2 separate regions of the Homo sapiens genome follow, and region 1 is linked to region 2. A link means that fine-mapping ties the variant in region 2 to the expression of a gene that starts in the linked region. Tissue or cell type: whole blood. Region 2 holds a variant in brackets; the other region holds the start of a gene. All regions are shown on one strand. Distances are from middle to middle.

Region 1 (5,349 bases), 39 kb before region 2:
AGACACACACATACCAACAAACATAAAGCTAGTATGGTAGTATTAATAATTATTAACCTGGAGTGGAAGATACACAGGTACTCTTTGAACTATTTTTTCAACTTTTTTTGGTTTGCTACTTTTTATATTAAGAAATTGGAGAGAAAATAATCAATTCCAGTTGCCCAGCTTTCTCTCACAATCTGACCTCACAATTCCCCTTTTCCCATAAATGTTCCCAATCATAATTCTCTTTCTCTAATAAATTTTCAACTTCTTCTATGGCTCCTTCACCTGGCCAGCTCATAAAGTCCCAATACTTAAATGAACAATTATATGCTGATGACTCCAAAATCCCTATCTCTAGCCCTTAGCTCTCTTAGACTTCAAATCCAACTCAATATGCCTCCAAATGAACTCACCATTAGCCCTGCCCTCCCCCAAACCTGTTCCTCCTCCCATGTTCAATAACCTAGCGAAGGGCTCCACCCACCTCCCACCCAGTGACCAAGCTGGTAAACTAGGCATATCCTTGACTCTTCCCTCTCACGAATGAAAGTTCCTTGAACAACTTCCGTTCATCATTCAGTTCTTAACTTAGACTTTACTTTCTCTCAGGAACCTTCCCTGTCTTCCCTCAATCTGAGTTAAAGGGCCTCTGTACACCCAAGGTGCCCTGGACTTTTGCTATTTTCACACTTACTGCACGGTATGGTAATTGTCTGTTTGCTGGTCTATAGACTCCACCAGACTCTACAGTCCAGGAGGACAAATGCTCCATTTCAAAAATACAATACCAATATTACTAGTAACAATAAAGTGATGGAGTGAGAATTATGATTGACATATAGTTTACACTAAGTAAAATGCACATATCTGTATGCAGTTCAATGCATTTTGATAAATGTATACACCCATGTAACCACCACCTCAATCAAGATACAGAACATTTTAATCACTCCAGAACACTTCCTGTACTCCTTTCCATCAGTCCCCTCCCCCTCCCTACTCCCAAATGACCACTTTTCTGCTTTCTATTATCATAGATCACTTTTGTCTATCTTGAATTTCTTCCTTCCTTCCTCCCTTCCTCCCTCCCTCCCTTCTTCCTTCCCTCCCTTCCTCCTTTTTCTTTCTTTCTCTCTCCCTTTCCCTCTCTCTCTCTTTCTCTCTTTCTTTCTAAGGAACCTTGCTCTGTCGCCCAGACCGGAGTGCAGTGGCGCGATCTCGGTTCACTGCAACCTCCACCTCCCGGGTTAAAGCGATTCTCTTGCCTTTGTAGCTGGGATTACAGGCATGCGCCACCACGCCCGGCTAATTTTTGTATTTTTAGTAGAGACGGGATTGCCCAGGTTGGCCAGGCTGGTCTCAAACTCCTGAGCTCAAGTGATCCGCCTACCTCATCCTCCCAAAGTGCTTAGATGAGAGGCGTGAGCCACTGCAATCCAGTTACATTTGTAAAGTTAAATATGCATTTATCCTCTGACCCAGCAATTCCACATCTAGAACTCTACTCCAAAGATAGGCTTGTACAAATACAAAATAACATATGCATAACGTTTCATCGCAGCATTATTTATGATAGCCAAAAAAACCTGGAAATAACCGATATGTCCATCAATAAGAATCTGTTTGAATAAGCTATGACACATCCAATCGGTGGAGTGCTATGAAGCTATGAAAAGGACTGAGGAGACTGCTTGCTGTATCCTGATATGGATCGTCAAGTGAAAAGAGAAAGTTAAGGAACACTGTATATACTTCCTTTTGTGTAAGAAAAGGAGCAGATACTCTGTTTATTTGTATAGTCAAAAATAAACAATAGAAAGTATCATTAAAGTGCACCAGACTTAAGTGCCTTCTAATGTGATGCAATATGAAGTATTTTCCAAAAAAAAATCTGAACTAGAATCTAATAAAGCTTTTAGATACAGCTTCCAGCCTAAAAGAAGTATGGGGAAAGGATGCACAAGTTAATGAGAAAAGACACTGAGGAACCAAACCCAGAAGGTGGTACGGCTGTAGGAAAATAAGAAAACTAATCCATATAACAAACAAATGGCACAAGAGAGAAGGGAGAGAAGCTATTCTAGAGTAAAACAGACGTAAAGTCTTAAGAGGCGTTAACAACGAATTACGGTGCTGAACAAACCAACTATAGAAAAGACATTTTGAGATAATCAAGGAATCTGACTACAGACTGACTACTAAATGAGGCTGTACTGCCAAAACACAATTCCAAGAGAGAAGGAATCTGCGCGTGGAAAGCCCAGGCCCCTTGCCCACTGCGAGGAGCCAGAACGTCCCTCCACAGCCGCGCCGCCCCTGGCTCGACTTCCCGAGCGAGAGCCGCGGGACGTTGCAGACGCACTGGCTCCGCCTTCCCACCAATCTCGACCCTCGCCGCGTTCCGTTCGTGCGTGGAGCAGTCGGGGCTGGAGGCGAGGCCGCCGGGCGGGCAGGGGTTGTGGCGCGGCAAGCGGCGGGCCAGCGACGGCGCGAATGGCGGACTCTCAGCTGTTCTGTGTGGCGGAGGAACGCAGCGGCCACTGCGCCGTGGTGGACGGAAACTTCCTCTACGTGTGGGGGGGCTACGTGGTAAGGGGAAGAGGCGGGACGGGGTAGACTCGCGCCGGGAGACCCTCGGCCTGAGCGGACGCAGCGCCCGCCACACCCGCTCCCGAGGCTGCGGCCCAGGCCTGGCGCGCCCGGCGCCTGCAGCCCCCCAGCCCCTCCGCTGGCCGCCGCCCCCACAGCCGCGCCAGGGCTTGACGTCGTCCCGCCGTTGCTTCTTCTATTAAAGCCTCAGACCCGGCTCCGGGCCTCTTACCACTCTCCGCCCCTCTTTGCCAGCAATTCAGTAACCACGGTTTGCCCAATGCAAAGGCAGTTACAGCGCGATTAATTATTATCCTTAAATACTGGCGCAGACCTAGAAGGACCCGAGGACGCCGTGCTGTATCATTTTGTATATATTTCCTTATTCCCACGGCGCGATTCGAAATAAAATATCGAAATCACTGAAGCATTTAAATATTTATTTTCTTTTCTTTTTCTTTTTTTTTTTTTTTTGAGATGGAGTTTCGCTCTTGTTGCCCAGGGCTGGAGTGCAATGGAACGATCTCAGCTCACCGCAACCTCCGCCCCCCGCCCCGGGTTCAAGCGATTCTCCTGCCTCAGCCTCCCTAGTAGCTGGGCTTACCGGCATGTGCCATCATGCCTGGCTAATTTTGTATTTTTAATAGAGACAGGGTTTCCCATGTTGGTCAGGCTGGTCTTGAACTCGCGACCTCAGGTGATCCGCCCGCCTTGGCTTCCCAAAATGCTGGGATTACAGGCATTAGCCACTGTGCCTGGCTTGCATTTTAAATATTTCTAAGCTATTTTTAGTGGCGTTTCTTTACTAATGACTATTTTTTCTAGTCTCAAAATAGACGCATGTTAGCAATAATATGCTAAGAAATATTATGCTTTAAAATTCTTACTACAATGGAGGTTTGAGCGTATGTGTGTGTTGTGTGTCCATAATCACAGAATTATAGAAGCAAGAATGGTAAAGCTGGAAAACAGGAATACTATATGCCAACCCTCTTAGTTTACAGATTTTTTTTCTTAAGCCATCTGGAAGTTCTACTGATAGTAGAACCTACATCTTCTGTCTCCCTACCATTATGTGACAGACCTGTAACGTGACTGAATCATATTGAAATGACCAACATACAGGCATACCTCGAAGTATTGCAGAATACTTCGTATGACTGCAATAAAGCGAGGTCATACGAATTTTTTTGGTATCTCAGTGCATATAAAAGTCATGTTTACATTGTAGTGTGTTAAGCATGCAATAGTATTATGTGTAAAAAAAAAATGTACATACCTGGCTGGGCGCGGTGGCTCACACCCGTAATCCCAGCACTTTGGGAGGCTGAGGCGGGTGGATTACCTGAAGTCAGGAGTCCGAGACCAGCCTGGCCAACATGGTGAAACCCCGTCTCTACTAAAAACACAAAAATTAGCCGGACATGGTGGCGGATGCTTGTAATCCCAGCTACTCGGGAGGCTGAGGCAGGAGAATCACTTGGACCCGGGAGGCGGAGGTTGCAGTAAGCCAAGATTGCGCCATTGCATTCCAGCCTGGGCGACAGAGCGAGACTCCGTCTCAAAACAAAAAAACAAAAAACTGTACATACCTAATTTCAAAATTATTGCTAAAAAATGCTAAGGATTATCTGAGCCTTCAGCGAGTTGTATTCTTTTTGCTCATGGAGGGTCTTCCTCTATGTAGTTGGCTACTGACTGATTAGGGTGGTTGTTGCTGAAGGTTGGAGTGGCTGTGGCAGTTTCTTAAGACAAGACAATGAAGTTTGCCACATTGAGCCTTCCTTTCACAAAATATTTCTCTGTAACATGCAATGCAGTTTTGATGTGTGTGTGTGTGTGTGTGTGTGTGTGTGTGTTTTGAGACAATCTCTCCTGCAACCTCTGCCTCCCAGGTTCAAGCGATTCTCCTGCCTCAGCCTCCTGAGTAGCTGGAATTACAGGTGTGCACCACCATGCCTGGCTAATTTTTGTATTTTTTACAGGCGTGAGCCACCGTGCCCAGCCATGAAATGTATTTTCTTAAATAATAAGACTTGAAAGTCAAAATGATTCCTTGATCCATGGGCAACAGAATGGATATTGTGTAGCAGGCATGAAAAGATAAATCTTGTAGATCTCCCATCAGAGCTCTTGGGTGACTAGGTGTGTTGTCAATGAGCAGTGAGTGAGATTTTCTGAGCAGCAGTTCTCAACAATAAACTACTCAGTAAGCCATGCTGTCAAAGAGACATGCTGTCATCCAGGCTTTCTTGTTCCGTTGTTAGAGCACAGGCAGTGTAGATTTAGCATAATTCTTAAGGGCCCTAGGATTTTCAGAATGATAAATGAACATTGGCTTCAACTTAAAGACAGCTACTACATTAGCCACTAACAAGAGAATTAGCTGGTCCTTTGAAATTGGACATTGACTTCTCTCTAGCTATGAAAGTCCTAGATGGCATCCTCTTCCAATATAAAGCTGTTTCATCCACGTTAAAAAATCTATTGTTGGCCGGGCACGTTGGCTCACGCCTGTAATCCCAGGACTTTGGGAGGCCGAGGCAGGCGGATCACAAAGTCAGGAGATCAAGACCATCCTGGCTAACATGGTGAAACCCCGTCTCTACTAAAAATACAAAAAAAATTAGCCAGGCGTGGTGGCAGGCGCCTATAGTCTCAGCTACTGGGGAGGCTGAGGCAGGAGAATGGCGAGAACCCAGGAGGCGGAGCTTGCAGTGAGCAGAGATCGCACCACTGCCCTCCAGCCTGGGCGACAGAGTGAGACTCTGT
Region 2 (5,000 bases):
TGATATGAACTCAAAATTCATAAATGAAAAGACTGATCGATAAGACTACTTAAAAATTAAATATTTCTCTGTAGAAAAATGTACCACAAAAAATTAAATGGCAAATTGTAAAATGCAAACAAAAAACTGGAAACAATATTTGCAGGTTTTTTTTTTTTTTTTTTTGAGACAGAGTCTTGCTCTGTCACCAGGCTGGAGTGCAGTAGCATGGTCTCAGCTCACTGCAACCTCGCCTCCCAGGTTCAAGCAATTCTCCTGCCTCAGCCTCCGGAGTAGCTGGGACTACAGGCGCGCACCACCACGCCCAGCTAATTTTTGTATTTTTAGTAGAGACGAGATTTCACCATGTTGGCCAGGATGGTCTCGATCTCTTGACCTTGTGATCCGCCCACCTTGGCCTCCCAAAGTGCTGGGATTACAGGCATGAGCCACCGTGCCCAGCTGACATTTGCAATATTTTTAAAAGAGAGATGTCAGGGCAAAGATCCACAAGAACTCAGTAAATCAGTTTTAAAAAGGCAAATAATCCAATAGAAAAGTGGACAAAGAACATGCATAAACAACTCACAGAAGAAATAATAGGTAAAAATTATTTTTAAAAGATGTTCAACCTAGGCTGGGTGCAGTGGCTCACACCTGTAATCCCAGCACTTTGGGAAACCGAGGCAGGTGGATCACCTGAGGTCAGGAGTTTGAGACCAGCCTGGCCAACATGGTGAAACCCCAGCTCTACTAAAAATACAAAAAAAGCAAGGAGTGGTGGTGGACGCCTATAATCCCAGCTACTCGGGAGCCTGAGGCAGGAGAATCGCTTGAACCCGGGAGGTGGAGGTTGCATTGAGCCAAGATCGTGCCACTGCACTCCAGCCTGGGCAATAAGAGTGAAACTCTGTCTCAAAAACTAATAATAAAAATAAAACCAGGCAGGTGCAGTGGTACACGCCTGTAATCCCAGTACTTTGGGAGGCTGAGGCTGGTGGATCACCTGAGGTCAGGAGTTCTTAACCAGCCTGACTAACATGGTGAAACCCCGTCTCTACTAAATACAAAACAATTAGCCGGGTGTATTGGCGCATGCTTGTAAACAGAGCTACTTGGGAGGCTGAGACAGGAGAATTGCTTGTACCTGGGAGGCGGAGGTTGCAGTGAGCTGAGATCACGCCATTGCACTCCAGCTTGGGAAACGAGCAAAACGCCGCCTCAAAAAATAAAAAAAAGTTTCTTATAAACAACACAAACAGTAAAAATATTTCCGTTTTGTAAAAAACAAATTGTATCTTCCAAAAATGTCCTGTGTTATTCTGGAACATTCCAGACTGTGGAAGAATGGTATCTTCTCACCTCCTAAATTAAATTCTTTTGCTTCTAACTTATGCTTTTTTATTTTATTTTATTTATTTATTTTTTTTGGAGACGGAGTTTCGCTCTTGTTGCCCAGGCTGGAATGCAATGGCGCGACCTCGGCTCACTACAACCTCCACCTCCCAGGTTCAAGTGATTCTCCTGCCTCAACCTCCCTAGTAGCTGGGATTACAGGCACATGCTACCAGGCCCAGCTATAACTTATGTTTTTATTTTTCATGCCCCGTCTCTTTTAAGTGTCCCTTTTATTATTATGATTATTCTTGTTGTTCTGTTTTCTTTTGTTTTAAGAGACAATGTCTCTATTTTGCCCAGGATGGTCCGTCCAACTCCTGGGCTTGAGCAATCCTCCTGCCTTGGCGTCCCAAAGTGCTGGGATTACAGAAGTGAGCCACTGTGCCTGGCATTGTTTTTATTTTTATTTTTTTGAGAAATCCTTAGAGGTTTACCCTGTATCTGGAATGGCTTTCATGCTTTTATTTTGAAGTTAGAATAGCTAGCATTTTCAGAGGAAGATAATGTTTTGGGAAATTCTAGAAGTAGATCAAAGTAAAAAACAACAATATAAAAACCCATAATATCCTTGGGGAAATCAGCTAAAAACACAAAATTAACCATGAAACAACAGTAAAAAGTTACAGACATGAAAAAAATTGTGTTGAAAAACTAAGGAAGCAGCTGATTAGCCAATAAGAATGATGCTGAGTATGCATTGTGCATTAACGGAGAATTGACTTTTTTTTTTTTTCTTGGAGAAGCAGTCTCTCTCTGTCACCCAGGCTGGAGTGCAGTGGTGCAATCTTGGCTCACTGCAACCTCCACCTCCCAGGTTCAAGCAATTCTCCTGCCTCAGCCTCCCGAGTAGCTGGGACTACAGGCGCATGCCACCAGGCCCAGCTAATTTTTTGTATTTTAGTAGAGATGGGGTTTCACCATGCTGCCCAGTCTGGTCTCGAACTCCTGAGTTCAGGCAATCCACCCGCCTTGACCTCCCAAAGTGTTGGAATTACAG[G/A]CATGAGCCACCGCGTCGGCTGAGAATTGACTTTTATTTTCACTGTGTAGCCAGGTGGAATGGTCATTAAATGGAAAGATTTTTTAAATTCATCTAAGAATTTAATAATGTTTTTCAAATATTCATGTAGGTGGGACTAGTAAAAGTTTTTTGGAGCAGTGAGGGCAGATTTTTTTTTTAAGATCTAAGATGATTAAAAACCTTTTATTTTGATTAATATAGTACCTAGACTTTCTTTTTCTCCTTGCCACAGGATTACTATTAATGGAGAAAGCCCAAAACATCGGTCATGGCATACTTTAACACCTATAGCTGATGATAAACTTTTCCTATGTGGTGGACTAAGTGCAGATAATATCCCATTAAGTAAGTTGATTAAGGTTTAGCCTATAATTATTATCTCATTCTTTTTTCTTAATTGTATTTCATACTTACAGTGAAGTAAATCTTCCTTTTTTCCTGTTTTTCTGGTTTGCCTTTATCCTCAATTATTTTCTTGCATGAATTATGATCTCCTTGCTTTTGTACCCTTGGCTCTCCACGTTCCCCTGTTTTCTAGGGAAAGAGAAGAGGAAGGGTGATTGAAGCTAGATGAAACAAAGCCCCTTTATACTACTATATTCTGTGATTCTGTGTCCGCTGATTTTTGATCCAGATGCTTGTACTGTAGGGTAGGATGCTTGCACTGTTCGCTTTTGCTGTACTCCAGGCTAGGGGATTGGAAGAGCAGCCTTTCTTAGAAGGCCCTGGAAATACAAAGTGGGAAGCCCAGTTGCTTCTCTTTTTGTTCCAGAGCTGTAGAGGAAAGTGTTTAGCTAGGTTTTTTAAACTCCAGTCATTGCTGATCCCAGTGGCTATGGGTTTTGGAATGCAGTTTTTCTTTCAGCAGTAGAACTGTGGCATCAAGATAGACAGATGACCACGAATATTGACTTCTTAATTTGGCATGTTAGATGTTTTATGTTTTCTATTTTCTTTTCTTTTTTTTTTTTTTTGAGATGGAGTCTTGCTCTGTGGCCTGGGCTGGAGTGGGATGGTGCAATCTCGGCTCACTGCAACCTCCACCTCCCGGGTTCAAGCGATTCTCCTTCCTCAGGCACCTGAGTAGCTGGGATTACAGGTGCCCACCACCACGCTCAGCTAATTTTTGTATGTAGAGGTGGGGTTTCACCATGTTGGCCAGGCTGGTCTCGAATTCCTGACCTCGTGATCCACCCGCCTCAGCCTCCCAAAGTGCTGGGACTACAGGCGTCAGCCACCGCACCTGGCCATTTTCTGTTTTCTTAACCCAGAAGTTTTCTCTGGCTAGAGATGTTTTCATTAAGAAACATTATACACTATTACAACATTTATATAATTATATATTAGGGTCTGGAAACAACTGTTTTTCAACAAAAGTTTATTGAGCATCAGCTGTGTGTCTGGCAGTCAGACAAATTCCAGAGGTTAGTTGGAGAAACAACAGTTCCTAGTAGGAGATGTTAGTTATTCTTGCACATTATTATACTTCTCCAATTTGTGAGATTTTTATTTAAAAGAGATTTGGAATCTAACCAAAAACTAACATCTGTACATTTCACTAGGGGCTGTTTAATATCATATCTTCATGATCTCTAGTGTTTTTAGTTCCTGTTTTCTGTTTTTGGTCATTGACCTATGGGAAATTAAATGTCCTAACTCATAAGCTAGTCAATTTCCTCCCTTAAAGATTCTGTTTCAGTCTAAGATTTGGTCATATGGATATTAGATGATCCCAAGACTTTTTTTTTAGTTTGGTTGACTGTGATAATGGCATTGTGGTTATGTAAAAAATGTCCTTTTATTTTCAGTAATGCATACTGAAGTATGTATGGAGAAAATGATGTGAGATCTAGGATTTCATTTAGAAAAATTAAGCAATAATAACAAAAAGATAAGTGGAGCACATGTAGCAAAGTCTTGATAGTTGTTGAATCTGCGATATATGGAAGTTCATTGTCATGGTCACTCTATTTTTGTAAATGTTTGAAAATTTGTATGATAAAATAGGTGCACTCAGAAAAGATAGTCATTTAAATGTAGCATGATAAATTGGGGGGAAAATTAAAATTGTATCCCAGAGACCTAATCTTAATTTCTGAACTGTCATGATATTGCAGGTGATGGTTGGATTCATAATGTCACAACAAATTGTTGGAAACAACTTACACATTTACCTAAAACAAGACCTAGGTAAGTCAAGAAATTGACAAATAGTAAAATAGTTAAGAATTTTTAAAGTATTAAAATATAGTACTGAATTTATAGTGTTTGCCATTGAAACCATAAGCCATTGAGAAGGATATCTTTCAAATGAGCTTGATGTTACCTAAATAATTTAATTATTATTTTAATTATATCTGATTGTTAGAAATGATCTATCCAGTTTTCACCCATACTTGCATATTTGAAAATGTTATTCTTTTAGGTAAATGCATAATCTTGCCTGATAACTGTGAAGATTAAGATAATTAAAAGCATCATATGAGATTAATGTTTTTAATGTTAATAATTTTAATAAGCAGACAAAAATGGGGTTGGCTTTAATAGTAGTTATTTGTTTTTGGAAGAGGTTTAAAGCAAGTTAATCAGGAAATTTGCTTCCATG

What was found. PIP is the estimated chance that this variant, and not a neighbour inherited with it, causes the effect.
Region 1: it holds the start of KLHDC1, and the variant in region 2 is fine-mapped to the expression of KLHDC1 in whole blood (INTERVAL, PIP 0.94).

Annotation. Positions count from the first base shown.
Region 1 is chr14:49,690,714-49,696,062 of GRCh38, forward strand. KLHDC1 (kelch domain containing 1) reads left to right here and starts at 2,407. Exons shown (of 13, transcript NM_172193.3): 1 at 2,407-2,577. The coding sequence starts at 2,482. RefSeq lists silencers at 2,552-2,601, 2,612-2,781.
Region 2 is chr14:49,730,077-49,735,076 of GRCh38, forward strand. It overlaps KLHDC1 (kelch domain containing 1), which reads left to right. Exons shown (of 13, transcript NM_172193.3): 9 at 2,628-2,740; 10 at 4,513-4,585. Among named protein-coding and RNA genes, the nearest start is that of KLHDC2, 36 kb to the right of the region's middle. The variant G/A (reference allele first, on the strand shown) is at 2,375.